Linked DNA regions of Homo sapiens: region 1 is linked to region 2. Evidence: fine-mapped expression QTL. Tissue or cell type: whole blood. Region 2 holds a variant in brackets; the other region holds the start of a gene. All regions are shown on one strand. Distances are between the middles of the regions.

Evidence for each region. PIP is the estimated chance that this variant, and not a neighbour inherited with it, causes the effect.
Region 1: it holds the start of MEF2C, and the variant in region 2 is fine-mapped to the expression of MEF2C in whole blood (TOPMed, PIP 0.94).

What each region holds. Positions count from the first base shown.
Region 1 is chr5:88,881,883-88,884,570 of GRCh38, forward strand. MEF2C (myocyte enhancer factor 2C) reads right to left here and starts at 1,302. Exons shown (of 11, transcript NM_002397.5): 1 at 1,073-1,302. MEF2C-AS1 (MEF2C antisense RNA 1) reads left to right here and starts at 1,448. Exons shown (of 10, transcript NR_136219.1): 1 at 1,448-1,603. RefSeq lists an enhancer at 2,360-2,409.
Region 2 is chr5:89,417,452-89,420,139 of GRCh38, forward strand. All of the region lies in intron 8 of MEF2C-AS1 (MEF2C antisense RNA 1), which reads left to right. Among named protein-coding and RNA genes, the nearest start is that of LINC02161, 160 kb to the right of the region's middle. The variant A/T (reference allele first, on the strand shown) is at 1,281.

The DNA of each region.
Region 1 (2,688 bases), 540 kb before region 2:
CCACTGAGGACCGGTTAAGGAACTGGCAGAGAGCCCAATTCTACTTAGTCTACTGTCAGCATTTACATATAAAGTATTTTATACAAAAGACACGCATTCCTAAAATGTGACAAAAAAAGGCTCTCCCCAAAGAATGATAACTACTGGACTTAGAATAGTCAGAAGTGATTCAGATATAAAATTTCCTTTAAAAAGCAATAGCCATGTTCAGGGAAGGAAGGTAACATTAGCATTAAATTTAAATACTTCCACAATATTTAATAATAAAATAAACAATGTGCCACATCTATATATACTTCCTTTGTGACAAACTTTATCATCGAGTTTGGTAACTTTCATTCCAAGTCCAAAGAGAAGGCAATTTAAGTGACTTAACCTTGCTTGCTTTTAAACAGCTATGTATTTGACTTGACCTGAACAGCAATCCATATGCTGAAATCGAACGTGAATTGTGAAATGTGTAGACTACTATGGCAGGGATATTACTTTTTGTCCACACCAATTAAGAAGCCCTCTGTCAAGCCGGCACTTTGGTGAGGGAAGGAAATGCACAAAGGTATACTCTGACAGACAGCCATGCTTTAGGTCAAACTAATCCCAAGAATTAGTGGCTCAGAAGCATAACCCAGGGCAAATCAGTGTCTTTGGGGGGACTCATGGGAGCATCTTTCCACAGTGAACTAACTGCTAAATCTTAAGGCGTCTACTTCAAGGTCACAGAACATGCTGTGAAATATTAAAATCCACCAGGCTCCACACGCTCCACCATATCAAACATGCTAATGACGTGAACTAACTTCATGAAACTTTAAATACACTGGTGTGACAGGAACGAGTCAGGAGTGATTTCAATAGCTGATGGCAAACGGATACGACTATCTAAAAAGTTACTTTTAGCAACAAACAAGGAAATCATGGAATCTAACGAAAAAGAATGCACAACGAGCCTCAACTTCAGCCTTCAAAAAAGGCACAGGGATAGATAGACACAGTGCCGTGGAATATATTGATGCAGATTTTAGAGACAATACCCGGGTTTTCTATTTCCTCGAGAAATATCAGGGGTACTTACATGAAGGAAGACCCGATCAGATTAGTCCTTGGGATATTTTCCTTTCTTAAGAGAGAGAGAGAGAGAAAAAAAAAATAACAACAATAATCTTTACTTCGTCCAGCGTTGAAGTGCTTCTCCACCTGATTCAAACATGCAGCCACGGCGACCCACACAGAACCTTCAAAGTCAATCCAATAGCAGCCCGAAGATGTCTGGGTGTACGCGTGTGCTCAAGTGTCTGTGACTGCGAGCAGAGCGAGCAGAGAGCTGGAGACGATGTGTGCGTGTGTGCGCGCGCGCGAGGGGAGCGCGCGCGAGGGGGGGGGCGCGGGGCCGCGCATTCGCGCGCGCCGAGGCCGCTCGGAAGAGGAGGAGGAGGAGGAAGAAGGAGGAGGAAGAGAAGGAGGAGGAGGAGGAGGAGGAGAAAGTGGCTCTCAGCGGCCGGTCGGATTAAAAGTAACCAGACTCGTCCAGAAAACTGCGTCCAGGAAGGAAGTGACAGAAGACGAATGGGAAAAGGAGAACAGCTCACAGCGTTTGAAACATCGCGTAAAAAAGACTGGGGGTGGTGGGGGCGGGGGGGATTGAAGGATACTGGGAGGGGAGGCGGGGGTGGTAGGGAAGACGGAGCACGAATGGTTGGGGTTCTAAGCAGCACGTCCGATGAAATGTCTTTTGCCTCCTTTTTTCCCCCTTTATTTAATTTTGTCCTTGCCTTTGCTTCGCGCTGCCTTTTTCTCTCCGTCTCTCTCTCCCCCACAATCCCAAACCGTTGACTCTTTCCTCGCGAGCTGGAGAAATCATCAGTTTCACTCTTGCAAAAGGGGGGCGGGACTAGACCTCGGAGCATTTTAATAAAACAAACATACAGCAGCTCCCTCCTCACCCCTCCAGTCTCAACTAGATTGATAAATTACTCCACTACACTACTTTAATTATGTATATGGTATGCAGAATAAATCACTGAACATCAGTACCTCAATCAAGCACTTTTAAATGATAATTGCATCTTGGTGAATCAATCTTTCCATTCCTGACATTTTGCTAATTTTAGTTTTACGGTGGGGTAATAGCACATGCCATACGCAAACCTAATGACAATTCTTTATTGCACGAAATGAAGACAACACGGCGAGCTGCGGCTCCCTGCTCCTCTCGCGGCGCCTCTGCGGAGGACGCTCGGAGAGAACCTAGTCTCCCGCTGCGGCGCGCTCGCTTGCTCTCCGGGGACGCTGCGAGCCAGCCAGCAGGAAAGTCCTTCTAAAGTCGGGATCTTTCCTCTGACCAATAGGAGCGCGACCCTAATAGTTGCTCTTGTGACTTTTCCCCCTTTTGGACACGCGTTAGCCACTTCTCTCTTCCACCGGTCGGTGCGCTCCTCCGTTACTCACGCGTAAAAACCACGGTCCAGGATGTCTGCAGCACTCGATTCCAGCGTGCTTTTCCTGCACGCCCAGAAGTCGCGGTTTTCACCCTGAGAGGTTGGAGCGCTAGAAAGCGAGCCGAAAGGTTTCTCTAATGTTAGTAATGTACGAAATAATAAAATAATTACCAGTATTTGAGATCTCGACTTCATCGCGGGGCCATGAACTTTCTAATCAGTTTGGAAATATTTACCGAGGAAGCAGCTTCCT
Region 2 (2,688 bases):
AAGAGGAAACACAGCATAAAAGTTTGAAAAATTTGCAACTTGACAATGCAGTGGAAAACAAAAAATGATTTTCTGGGGGGATATTTTGGCCAGCAGCAGAAATTTGCATAAGCAATGAGGAGTCAAATGCGAATTGCCAAGACACCGGGGAAAATGTCTCCAGGGCATGTCAGAGACCTTCACAGCAGCCCGTCCCATCACAGGCCCAGATCCCTAGGGTGAAAAAATGGTCTCCTGGGCTAGGTCCAGGGCTCCCCTGCTGTGTGCAGCCTTGGGACTTGGTGACCTGCATTCCATCCACCCCAGCCATGGCTAAAAGGGGCCAATGTACAGCTTAGGCCTTTGCTTCAGAGGGTGAAAGCCCCAAGCCTTGGCAGCTTCCATGTGGTATTGGTCCTGCAGGTGCATAGAAGACAAGAATTAAGGTTTGGGAACCTTTGCCTAGATTTCAGAGGATGTATGGAAACACCTGGTTGTCCAGGCAGAGGTGTGCTGGAGGGTCAGAGCCCTAAAGGAGAACCTCTGATAGGGTGGTACAGCAGGGAAATGTGAGGTTGGAGCCCCCCACACAGAGTCCCCACTGGGGCCCTGCCTAGAAGAGGTGTGAGAAGAGGACCATTGTCCTCCAGACCCCGGAATGGTAGATCCACTGACAGCTTGTACCGTGTACCTGGAAAAGCTGCAGACACTCAACACCAGCCTGTGAATGCAGTCTGGACAGGGGGCTGTACCCTGTAAAGCCACAGGATGGAGCTGTCCAAGGCCCTGGGAACTCATTTCTTGTGTCTGCTTGACTTGGATGTGAGACATGGAGTCAAAGGATTTCATTTTGGAACTTTAAAGTTTAATGACTGCCCTATTGGATTTTGGACTTGCATGGGGCCTGTAGTCCCTTGGTTTTGACCAATTTTTCCCATTTGGAACTGGTGTATTTACCCAATGTCCAGCCCCCATTGTATCTAGGAAGTAACCAACTTTTTTTAAATTTTTTATCTTACAGGTTCATATGTGGAAGGGACTTGCCTTGTACCAGATAAGACTTTGGACTGTGGGCTTTTGAGTAAATGCTGAAATGAGTTAAGACTTTGAGAGATTGCTGAGAAGGCATGATTGGTTTTGAAATGTGAAGACATGAGATATGGGAGGAGCCAAGGGATGAATAATATGGTTTGGCTGTGTTCCCACCCAAATCTCATCTTGAAATGTAGCTCCCATAAGCCCCATGTGTTGTAGAAGGGACCCAGTGGGAGGTAAGTGATTCATGGGGGTGGCTTTTTCCC[A/T]TGGTCTTCTTGTGATAGCGAATACATTTCATAAGATCTGATGGTTTTCTAAAGGACAGTTCCCCTTCACTTCTCCTTCCTGTTGTCATGTGAAGGACATGTTTGCTTCCCCTTCCACCGTGATTGTAAGTTTCCTAAGGCCTCCCCAGCCATGCTGAACTGTGAGTCAATTAAACCTCTTTTGTTTATGTTACCCAGTCTAAGGTATGCCTTTGTTAGCAGCATAAGAACAGACTAATAGGTTCAATCAGAGTGAACTTTGTTTTCAACAAGAATTCTCCATAGCTGGTATTGTGTACTTCCTTCATGAGGCATACAATTTCTGGGTATCTCAATGTGTGATGTTGATTAGCGCTGGTAATCATTGCCCAGTAATGTAGTTTCATTAGGCATTTAAAAAACGGTGATATTCTTCCATGTCTACCATTTTTCCCTCTTTTTTTAAGCTCAGAAAATTAATGATCTTCTCTCCATTTTGCATGTTGCTTAATTTTATTTCCTGTTTCATTGAGTGGTCGTTCGAGTCATTGATTTTCACTACTTAGTTATTTTCATTGATGACTTAGATTTTTCTTTAACAAGGTTTAATTGGTTCAGTTTTTGTTTTGCAGCTACTATGCTTTATTTTCTTCTGTATAAAAGAATACCAGCTGTTTTCAAAATCTACTTTTGTGTGATTGTTCTGTATCAGGAATAGCACAGGCATTTTTTTTTCTCCCAATTATTTTTTCTGGTTCTTTAAAATTTTACTAAGTCAAGTTATTATTATTGTTCTTCCTCTCTTCTTGTGATTCTTTGGCTAATCTCTAGAGATCTAGTCTAATGGTAGACAGATTTGAGATTTTGTGACAAGTGCTAGGTTTATGGCTCTCTTTGGTGTTGGAGAAAATTCCACTGGTGCCATTCACTGCGAAAGAAAAATTTTCAAGATTCAACTACAAACTCAAGGAATGGCTTAGTGATGTGACAAAGGAAACTGTCTGTTGTATTTCTGTGATGCTGAAACTTTCATTCTTATGTGAGAGCATTATACCAATAGCAAGATTTTCAACATGAAGTATCACATGGAGTTAGAATTAGGGAGCACGCTATCTTGGGGAGATACTTCCATTCCTCTTCTCATAATCTGCATAGTAAAGAATGCTCTATTTAATAGCAGGGTAGATCTTCCGTATTTGAAAACAAGGAGTATGTCAGCTGGAGATGAGCATTTCACTCCTGCTTTCCTCTTAAATTCTCCAAATTGAGTTTAGGGTTCAGGCGGATTTTTGCATCTGTTTTCTTTTTCTAGCCCTGAAATTATTAGACATATTAGGGGCTGGAATGTTCAGGCTATCCTCAACATAATATTTCCTATACTGCACACATTAAATTGATTTTACTGAGCCAATTTCTCTGAATTCAAGTT